Regions from separate parts of the Homo sapiens genome. Here regions 1, 2 and 3 are each linked to region 4. Evidence: fine-mapped expression QTL. A gene starts in region 4. Each other region holds a variant in brackets. All regions are shown on one strand. Distances are from middle to middle. Region 1 has its middle 15 kb from the start of UCMA. Region 2 overlaps PHYH (phytanoyl-CoA 2-hydroxylase). Region 3 overlaps OPTN (optineurin). Region 4 holds the start of PHYH (phytanoyl-CoA 2-hydroxylase).

Region 1 (2,746 bases), 80 kb before region 4:
ATGATAGACTGGATTAAGAAAATGTGGCACATATACACCATGGAATACTATGCAGCCATAAAAAATGATGAGTTCATGTCCTTTGTAGGGACATGGATGAAATTGGAAACCATCATTCTCAGTAAACTATCGCAAGAACAAAAAACCAAACACCGCATATTCTCACTCATAGGTGGGAATTGAACAATGAGATCACATGGACACAGGAAGGGGAATATCACACTCTGGGGACTGTGGTGGGGTCGGGGGAGGGGGGAGGGATAGCATTGGGAGATATACCTAATGCTAGATGACACATTAGTGGGTGCAGCGCACCAGCATGGCACATGTATACATATGTAACTAACCTGCACAATGTGCACATGTACCCTAAAACTTAAAGTATAATAATAATAATAAAAAAAGAAAAAAAAAAAAAAAAGAAAAGATAAAAAAAAAAAAAAAAATGTTAAACCATGGGTGTGTATTACCTGTTAGACTATTTTTTTTTTGAGATGGAGTCTCGTGTACCTGTTAGACTATTTTTAATTTTAAAAAGCCAAGATAATGTGGAAAGTGAATAAAACATTTTTAAACATTTATAATTTTAAACATTATAAGATCACAGAGTATATCAGAGTTCTCAATTGTAGACTAGAACATTTATATTTAACCAATTTGTTTTCAGAGAAATCCCTTCAAGGCTAGAGACAACTTTTTTTTAGAGACAGGGTCTTACTCTCTTGCCCAGTCTGGAGTGCAGTGGTGTCACATAGTTCACTATACCCTCAACCTCCTGGGCTCAAGCAATCCTCCCACCTCAGTCTCCCGAGTAGCTGGAACTACAGGCATGTGTCACCATGCCCAACTAATTTTTAATTTTTTTTGTAGAGATGGAATCTCACTATGTTGCCCAGGTCAGTCTCAAACTCCTGGGCTCAAGCGATGCTCCCACCTCGGCCTCTGAAAGTGCTGGGATTACAGGTGTGGCTCACCACGCCCAGCCTTTTAAATTATGAAAAACTTTTAAATTATGAAAAACTTCCCAAAGAATTAGAACATAATTGGCAGCAAATGAATTAGAAATAAAATAACCCAACTCAATGTAACTGATAAAAACCACATAAGTTAAAAAAATTTTTTTAATCATTCTGTGGCTCACAAAACTTACCACCTCCTTCTAAAAAATCTAAATAAACAAAGGCACACGATAATAAATTGTAAAATCTCTCCTGGAACACACAAAAACATTGTTTTTTCCTTGTACCTTTAACCTGCACTGGGAAAATGAAATTCCAACATATGCAAAATTGGTGAATAAAAATGAATGACAGATATATCCTTTGACAAATTTGTTTTCAACCACTTAGCTAGAACCCACTAAGAACTACGGGAAAGTAATGAAAGAACAGAAAAACCCAAGCAAAAGAAGCCCCAAAGGCCACACTTTTGACAAGGCCAGTCTCCAAAATACAAACCGCCCTGTTCTAATTTCATGTGAACTGTGGCTGTCCAGATCCCAGATCGCGTTACCTCTGTTATGCTTCTCCCGCCCAAGGAAATGACCGCAGCTGGCATTTGGTGAAGGAATTCTGGACCGAATTT[GAAAACCCTGAAGT/G]ATAATGGAGCCCTTGTTAAGGATGGGGGTAGAACAAGGTAATGGAATTCTTATTTGGCTCCTTTCTGCCAGAGTTCTGTATCTAGAGCCACCGTGCTAAGCATGAGCAGGGAAGAGGCAAGAACAGGCTGTTTTGCTTTTTTAAAGCAAGCCATTCTTGGTTTTTGACATCTGAAAAGCCCTGCATTCCTTCCTGTGGACACACGACCGGCAGGTGGTGCATGGTGTGGCTGTGAGTCAAGTTATTGGTTGACATCCTCCTGATCACCACCATGCAGCAAAGGGGAACTGCCCTCTTGCCAGAAAGCACTGGGGTGTGTTATCCTGACCAATATGAACCAGATTGGGGCTTCTCTTGTTTCCCCATGGAAGTGACAGAGCAACACTTTGCCTTTTTTTCTGTTGCACACTGAGTATTTTTTTTAGTCATTAATTAAAAAAACAAAAACAAAAACCTTGTAAACAGAGGCTACCTACCTCAGGGCCTGTCTTGGCATCCAACCAGAAGGTCAGTTATGTGCAAATACAGTGCAACCTCCCTGGTATCGCTGGCTGAACAGCCTGCACCCCTGACTCAGGATCTGAGCTAGCAGTGGTTAAGCTTTCACTGCTGCCCAACTACCAACCCCAGTTGGCAGGCTCACCATCCACTCGGTAACTGATCTAGATAGACACATGTTGTTCTCAAATTTCATTTTTTCTTTTTCTTTTTTTTTTTTTTTTTTTAGATAGGGTCTCACTCTGTCTGACAGACGGGAATGTAGTGGCCTGATCATAGCTCACTGCACCCTCAAACTCCTGGCCTCAAACAATCCTCCTGCCTCAGCTTCCCAAAGCACTGGGATTACAGGTATGAGCCACCACACCTGGCCTTAAAGTTTTTCTGTTATACCAGTCTCTTCCACTGCTAGAACATTGCTTACTAAAAGCTGTGTGTCACTTTCAAGGAGGTTTGTGGAGAGCTGCGGGTTCCTAAACAGCCTTTCTGTTTAGCCAGGCCCGAAGGCATTGGGGTAGGTGGTAGAAGTACATGGATCACATAGCTAGGGTATGCACTAGGAACCTGGTTAAGTCTGACTTGGTTAAATTTAATGGAGCTAGAAGTGAGATTTGCCGTCTGAAAAGACACCATGAATAGTGTATATTTCA
Region 2 (2,746 bases), 21 kb before region 4:
TTTTGAGACAGGGTCTTGCTCTGTCACCCAAGCTGGAGTGCAGTGGTGTGATCTCAGCTCACTGCAACCTCTGCCTCCCAGGTTCAAGTAATTCTTCTGCCTCAGCCTCCTGAGTAGCTGGGATTACAGGTGCATGCCACCACGCTCGGCTATTTTTTTTTTTTTTTTTTGTATTTTTGGAGAGATGGGGTTTTGCCATGTTGGCCAGGCTGGTCTTGAACTCCTGACCTCAGGTGATCCACCCACCTCGGCCTCCCAAAGTGCTAGGATTACAGGCGTGAGCCACTGCACCTGGCCCTTGTCTTCATTCTTCAGGAACAGAGGAAAGGACTGGAAAGAACAAGTCTTCTTGTTAAGGGAATGGTTGGGTTGAAGAAATCACAGGAGAAAGCCCTTGTCCGAGCAGGAATATCCACTTTATTTGGACTCCATGACACCGTTCCTATGCCCTTGACTAGATGTGAATGTATTATACATTGTTCTAGATTTGGGGGAAAAAAATCTCTTATGACATAAAATTGGTAGGGAATGGGTTTATCAGAAAGGGGATACAAAACATACCCTAAGCTCCAAATCATTCACTTCTTCTTGGGTAAAGAGCTAACTGAATGAAAGAAATTGATTTAACACTTAAATTAGACACCAACCACCTTTATTGGCTGCCACCCTAAATTAGTTTTCCTTAAAACAGTAATATTTCACTTTTACTGTTTTTTTTTTCCATTAAAGCAACACCATTGTGCTGCAAAACTAACTCTATGCAATTAAGTACCTGATACATGTTTTCTGCTTTTAACAAGTGATAGAAAAGGTTACATCATCTCATTAAGAAAACATTTTCCTTAGACATTTCGTTTGGTTTTGGTTTTCTGTTGAAAGAGTTATAGCAGATGGCTATTTCAAAGATTGGTTCTTTCTCCTTTCACAAGTCGAGCTCGAAACATCCAAATATCCTGGAAATAATATCAAACAGAGTGGGTTTATGGAACACTTCAATCTGCCCTCCATTAACCTTCAATTTCACCATAACACAAAATTGATTTCTAGCTTCTATGAAAGGTTACATAGGGAAAATAATCCCTGTAAGTTATATTCATTAGTAAACAAAACAACTCAACTTAAACTACTTACTCAACTCTTTTTTAAAAATTTT[T/C]TGGGGACACAGTCTCACCCCATTGCCCAGGCTGGAGTGCAGCGGCTCACTGCAACCTCTGCCTCCCGGGTTCAAGCGACTCTCCTGCCTCAGCCTCCCGAGTAGCTGGGATTACAGGTGTGCACCACCACGCCCAGCTAACTTTTTGTATTTTCAGTAGAGACAGGGTTTCGCTACACTGGCCAGACTGATCTCAAACTCCTGGCCTCAAGTGATCTGTCCGCCTTGGCCTTGCAAAGCCTCCCAAGTGCTGGGATTACAGGTATGAGCCACCACTCCTGGTCTACTTAACCGACTTCTAAAACAGTGTTAACTAAATTAAGTCAGTGGGTCCCCCAGCTGCTGTCAGTTCTGTTTTATTCAGGATATTTGTTGGTGCCAGCTAACATAACTGGGTCAATGTCATGTCGGGTTACAGAACAAACAGTTCACTGCCATTTTTCTGCATAATTTTTTTTTTTGAGACGGAATTTTGCTCTTGTTGCCCAGGCTGGAGTGCAATGGTACCATCTTGGCTCATTGCAACCTCTGCCTCCTGGGTTCAAATGATTCTCCTGCCTCAGCCTCCCAAGTAGCTAGGATTAGAGGCATGTGCCACCACACCCGGCTAATTTTATATTTTTAGTAGAGACGGGGTTTCACCATGTTGGTAAGGCTGGTCTCAAACTCCTGACCTCAGGTGATCCACCCGCCTCAAACACCCAAAGTGCTGGGATTACAGGAGTGAGCCACTGCACCTGGCCTGATGACTCTTATGTTACTTGTCTGAGCCTTTTTGAGTGTTCTACTCTTGATGAGATGATAATAGTGAACATGGTATCAAGGATTACTGCTTTGTTTGGTGGGTTTCTTCCCCCTCTGCCCTTAATAAAATAATTTAGATGTTCTTATTTCTTGGTTCTTGTTTATTTTTGAGCAAACAGCAAGGTATGGTGGAAAGAATAATTTTCAGATTTGACCTGACTCTAAAATCAAGCTTTGTCGCTTAGCTAGCTTAGATCAGCCTCTGGGATTTGTTTTCTTGTCATTGACAGCATGGAGTTTATACTGCCCCACCGGGTTTTGGTGAAGAAAATAAGAAAATGAATATGAATGTGCTTTTGTACTTTACAGAGAACTATGTAGCAGAGGTTAATATTGTTATTCTAAATATAACTTACAGAGTAATTAAACTAAATGTGGGAGGTATTCATTTAGCACAACCTTGACAAACCTCAAACATAATGTACATATATTTGTTCTCCCTTAAAATTTAGGATGTTAGCTCAAAGCTCCAGTTGACAAAATGTATAGGCATTTTAGGTACTGAACAAAAAGTGAGGAAGGACAAGAATTTCTAGGACCTGCAAATGCAAAATCAGAGCATTTTCAGAGATGCGACACATTTCCAGGTTCTAAAGGGAGAAGCAAGATTCCTTCTTTTGTTGTTGTTGAGACAGAGTCTCGCTCTGTCGCCCAGGCTGGAGTGCAGTGGCATGATCTCGGCTCACTGCAAGCTCCGCCTCCTGGGTTCACACCATTCTCCTGCCTCAGCCTCCCGAGTAGCTGGGACTACAGGCATGTGCCACCAGACCCAGCTAATTTTTGTATTTT
Region 3 (2,500 bases), 180 kb before region 4:
CTACTTCCCAGTTATAAGCTGGCATGGCCAATACTGGAACATCTTTTGTAACAATGACTGATAGCACTCTCAGTCATTGTGGGTGTTGCCTGAAAGTGCCCAGATTTCTTATCTGTGGAGTCTCAAGTGTACCTGTCCTATGTAGATGTGAGGAAACAGACATCTTAAATAGTGGCAGGGCCTTGGGGAGGGAGGCAGACCTAGAACTGAGCGCCTGAACCTCTTGACTCTCGCAAAGCAGTGCTCACCAAGGAGACTGCTAGCTCGCCTTCTGCAAGCTGCTTACTCCTGTAATCATCTATTCAAGAGACGATTGTCTGAAAAGAACTCTAAGGATCTCTTTTTTTTTTTTTTTTTTGAGACGGAATCTTGTTCTGTTGCCCAGGCTGGAGTGCAGTGGCGTGATCTCGGCTCACTGCAAGCTCCGCCTCCCGGGTTCACGCCATTCTCCTGCCTTAGCCTCCCGAGTAGCTGGAACCACAGGCGCCCACCACCATGCCCGGCTAATTTTTTGTATTTTTAGTAGAGATGGGGTTTCACCGTGTTAGCCAGGATGGTCTCGATCTCCTGACCTCGTGATCTGCCCGCCTTGGCCTCCCAAAGCGCTGGGATTACAGGCATGAGCCACCGCGCCCGGCCAGGATCTCTTATCTCACAGACGGATAAGAGATCCATCTTTTTTTTTTTTTTGAGATGGAGTTTTTTTTTTTTTTTTTTTTTTTTGAGATGGAGTTTCACTCTGCCACTGAGGCTGGAGTGAAGTGGCGCAATCTCAGCTCACTGCAACGTCTGCCTCCCGGGTACAAGCAGTTCTCCTGCCTCAGCCTTCCGAGTAGCTGGGAATACAGGTGGCCGCCACCACGCCCAGCTAACTTTTTGTGTTTTTAATAGAGACAGGGTTTCACTGTGTTGACCAGGCTGGTCTCGAACTCCTGACCTCAGGTGATCCTCTGGTCTCAGCCTCCCAAAGCGCTGGGATTACAGGCGTGAGCCACTGCGCCCAGCTATCTCATAGATTTGTAAAACCTTCTTTGTATAACTTGATGAATGTGCATATAGAATGACTTACAAAACGTGAAAAAAATTGTCTTCCGTTATGTTTCTAAGCCCTTGTATAAGGAAGAAAGTAAGTATTAGATAATATTCTTTCGTCAAACACAGTAATTGGCATAAACGAAAGTAATTCCCTTTTTTGGTTAACAATTCTTCACGTTTCCCCCAAATTGCTTTTGTCATATTTAAAGACGTTCCTGGAAGTAGTGGGAAATAAAAAAGCCCTGGTTGAAATATCAAAGCCACTTCCTCATCATTCATATCCAGATGCAAAGACCGCTTCCTCTTTTAAGCCACATGGCTATTTTTAAAATAACAGCTCTGTACCATTTGTGAGTATCGTAATTAGTTTGAGATTGATTTCCAGGTTTGGAGTTGAAGCTTCAGAGTCCTGGAAACCGGGATTTAATCCTGGCTGTTTATTAGCTATGCGAACCTGAGTCGGTGACTGAAAGAGTAGCTGC[C/T]GTTAGCATCATCATAGTCATCCCTCATGTTTTGTAACAGTGATCATGATTCTGTTTGTCACTGATATGTCTCTTGATTTAGTCAGATTTTGAAATCGAGAAAAATACTTGACATATCAACAGAGCCTCCATTTCTCTGCTCTCATTATTTGAAACCACAAGTGAAAAAGGTTTTCTCCCCTTGACTTAAGCTGTGATGGTCTCTGTTAACTTGGAGAAAGGCCAGTGGTCTGTACAATGTGCCTTTATCTTTTGTCTGACTGCAGTCCCCTTTGAGACTAGATCTCTGGAAAGCTTGGCACCTTCAGCCACGGCTGCCTCTGCTGAACTGTTCCGTGAGTTTTGTGGTGTGGTGTGAGGTACACAGTGACTGTTTGGAGGACGTGGGTGTGTGCATTGTAAGCTGGCCTCTCCAGAGCCTCACTGAGTCTCCACACCTTCCCTAGGAAGCATGGAGGAGCTTGGCACTGGGGGTCCCAGGACCAGCTGTGCTTGTTCACTAGTTGAGAATTAGTTGGAGAATGTTCTGGAAAGCAGTTCCTTTAAGCTGGTCCCAGTTATATTGGGTTACTCTCTTCTTAGTCTTTGGAATTTTTCTGATGAAAACCTTTTAACCTTTATACTGAACAGGGCATTGTCTAAATATAGGAGCAGATCTGCAGATGGGGCCAAGAATTACTTCGAACATGAGGAGTTAACTGTGAGCCAGCTCCTGCTGTGCCTAAGGGAAGGGAATCAGAAGGTGGAGAGACTTGAAGTTGCACTCAAGGAGGCCAAAGAAAGGTATGAAATAGGTTAACTTGAAATATGTGTTTTTTTAAAACAGCTTTCCTGAGATATAATTAAGATACCATACAGTTCACCCATTTAAAGTATACATTTCAGTGTTTTTTAGAATATTCCAGGATTGTGCAACCACTGTTACTACAATATAATTTTAGAACATTTTTTCCCCCAAACAGCACTCACTGTCTGCTCCTCCA
Region 4 (2,746 bases):
GGCGTTCATTTGTAATCCCAGCTACTGGAGAGGCTAAGACAGGAGAATTGCTTGAACCTGGGAGGTGGAGATTGCAGTGAGCTGAGATCAGGCCACTGCATTCCAGCCTGGGCAACAGAGAGAGACTCCATCTCAGAAAAAAAACTACCACCACTACTACTACTACTACTACTACTACTACTACTACTACTACTACTGCTACTACTACTACTACTAATAATAATAATACAAATTACACTTGGGAGGCTGAGGCAGGGGAATGGCTTGAACCTGGGAGGCGGAGGTTGCAGTGGGCCGACATTGCAGAGTGCGGCACTGCACTCCAGCCTGACCACAGAGCAAGACTCCGTCTCAAAAATAATAATAATAATAATAATAATAATAATAATAATAATAATAACAACAATAACAACAACAACATAAATTCGCCTGGCATCGTGGCGCAACCCTGTAGTCCCAACTACTTAGGAGGCTGAGGTGGAAGGATCTCTTGAGCCCAGGAGTGAGCCGAGATCGTACCACTACTGCACTCCAGCCTGGGTGACAGAGTGAGGCCCTGTTTCAAAAAAAAAAAAAAACCAAAAAAGCAAAACCCTAGAAATTCCTTTTAAAGATCTCCTTTCTATCCGGTAACTGCAGAGAGTTGACATAGAATTGCATTGTTTCTTTAGCTTAATCGGTTACTTTCGGAATGTCACTCTCATCAATTAACATGTTATCCTTTCTTTCTCTCTGTTTCTCTCTTTTGGAACGCACTGGCCATCACGGCTCACTGTAACCCTGGACTCCTGGCCTTGGCCCCCAGAAGAGCCGAGACAACAGGCAAGGCGTGTGCCGCCGCGCCAGTCCTCACCCGCTGTCCTTCCCCAAATAGTGTCTTTATATAACTCAGTGGCAATGCCGTAGTCCAGCAGGGAGGCCGCCCTGGGCAGCGCCTGCCTGGCCAGCTCCTGCCCGGGAGGGCACCGTCCTCTCCCCTCCGGAGAGGTCCCGGTCACTGCCTGCCTGGGCCGGTTCCAGGCAGCCCTGCGCGCCTGTGCACCGTGCGCCTGTGATTGGACATCTCTGGGTCTCTGGACAGCTGCCGGGGTCACGCGCCGCCGGTGAAACGACGTCTCCACAAAGAGAGGAGCAGAGGCCCCCAGGGATCCCGGAGGGCAGGGCAACGCGGCAATTGCCCCGACCCCAGGGCGGCCGCGCGTGTCCTCGGGGGACGCAGCCTCTTCCCCGCTCCCCGGCTCCTGGAAGAGACGCGACCCAGGCGGGGACGCGGCGCTGAGCGAGGAGGCGCTGGGGCTGCGAAGCGTGCGACCCCGAGGCCTCCACCCGGACCAGGGCCACCACTCAGGCGGCGGCGCCGGCGCCGGATCCAGCCCGAGCCCCGCGCAGCCCAAAGGATACGACAGCCCCGGCCGAGGGGCGGCCGAGGTGGCCCAGAACAATCTGCAGACGGGCGGCGGCGCGAAGCTGCTCCATGGCTGCGGCGCGGGGAACCCCCACCCCTCCCGGCCTCTGCCCCATTTAGCCCAGCGGGCGGCTCCGCCTCCAGGCGCCGCCCCGGACTGGACGTAAGCGGGATTCCGGGCGGTGCCAGCTCGCGGGCCGGGCTGCTGGGGAGCCCTAGTCCGCTAGAGTCCGCGCGCCGGGCAACCGCCCGGGGCTGAAGTCCTCCCCACACCATGATCCTTCCGTCCTTTATTTTCTTTCTTTTTAAAAAGAAACAAGATCTTGCTCTGTCGCCCAGGCTGGAGTGCAGTGCGCGATCATAGCTCACTGCAGCCTTGAACTCTTGGGCTAATTTTTATTTTTTGTAGAGATGGGGTCTCGCTACGTTGCCCAGGTGGGTCTCAAACTCCCCCCGCCTCCCGTCTCGACCTCCCAAAGTGCTGGGACTACAGGCGTGAGTCATTACCCCTGCCCCGCACCCTGTTTCTGTTCCATCACCAGGACCCTCCCTGCCGCACCGAAGCTCGGGGGCCCAGTGACCAGGCCGAGGTCACACAGTGACAAGTGGCTGGGCTGGGACCTCACTCACTCTCCTAACGTCATGGCTTCCATCTGTTTAACCCTACGTGACTGCTCCTTCCACTGACAGCTGAAAGAATAAAATCTCCGATTTAAACAAAAAGTTTGCCGGGCGCGGTGGCTCACGCCTGTAATCCCAGCACTTTGGGAGGCCAAGGCAGGCGGATCACGGGGTCAGGAGTTCGAGACCAGCCTGGCCAACTTGGTGAAAACCCGTCTCTACTAAAGATACAAAAATTAGCTGAGTGTTGTGGCGCACGCCTGTAATCCCAGCTACTGGGGAGGCTGAGGCAAGAGAATCACTTGCAACCGGGAGGCGGAGGATGCAGTCAGCGAGATGGCGCCACTGCATTCCAGCCTGGGTGACAGGGCAAGACTCCGTCTCTAAACAAACAAACAAACAAACAAACAGGTTTTTAGCCGGGTGCGGTGGCTCACGCCCGTAACTCCAACACTTTGGGAGGCCGAGGCAGGAGGATCGCTTGAGCTCAGGATCGCTATAGATCGAAAGCAGCCTGGGTAACATAGTGAGAACACCTGATCTACAAAAAAATTAGCCGGGCGTCGTGGCGGGCGCCTGTAGTCCCAGCTACTCAGGAGGCTGAGGCAGGAGAACGGTGTAAACCCAGGAGGCGGACCTTGCAGTGAGCGAGATGGCGCCACCGCACTCCAGCCTGGGCGACAGAGCAAGACTCCGTCTCAAAAAAAATAAAAAATAAAT

The links. PIP is the estimated chance that this variant, and not a neighbour inherited with it, causes the effect. A credible set is the group of variants that fine-mapping cannot tell apart.
Region 1: its variant is the best candidate, but not a certain one, in a credible set for the expression of PHYH in skeletal muscle (GTEx, PIP 0.87).
Region 2: its variant is the best candidate, but not a certain one, in a credible set for the expression of PHYH in cerebellar hemisphere (GTEx, PIP 0.74).
Region 3: its variant is the best candidate, but not a certain one, in a credible set for the expression of PHYH in blood mononuclear cells (TOPMed, PIP 0.72).

What each region holds. Positions count from the first base shown.
Region 1 is chr10:13,218,300-13,221,045 of GRCh38, forward strand. No RefSeq gene overlaps it. Among named protein-coding and RNA genes, the nearest start is that of UCMA, 15 kb to the right of the region's middle. The variant GAAAACCCTGAAGT/G (reference allele first, on the strand shown) is at 1,585.
Region 2 is chr10:13,277,402-13,280,147 of GRCh38, forward strand. It overlaps PHYH (phytanoyl-CoA 2-hydroxylase), which reads right to left. Exons shown (of 9, transcript NM_006214.4): 9 at 398-953. The coding sequence ends at 900. Among named protein-coding and RNA genes, the nearest start is that of PHYH, 21 kb to the right of the region's middle. The variant T/C (reference allele first, on the strand shown) is at 1,154.
Region 3 is chr10:13,116,741-13,119,240 of GRCh38, forward strand. OPTN (optineurin) reads left to right here. Exons shown (of 15, transcript NM_001008212.2): 7 at 2,148-2,300. Among named protein-coding and RNA genes, the nearest start is that of OPTN, 18 kb to the left of the region's middle. RefSeq lists an enhancer at 1-18. The variant C/T (reference allele first, on the strand shown) is at 1,518.
Region 4 is chr10:13,298,567-13,301,312 of GRCh38, forward strand. It overlaps PHYH (phytanoyl-CoA 2-hydroxylase), which reads right to left and starts at 1,498. Exons shown (of 9, transcript NM_006214.4): 1 at 1,402-1,498. The coding sequence starts at 1,476. LOC124902377 (a long non-coding RNA gene) reads left to right here and starts at 1,623. Exons shown (of 2, transcript XR_007062056.1): 1 at 1,623-1,840. RefSeq lists enhancers at 488-1,108, 1,685-1,824 and a silencer at 1,085-1,504.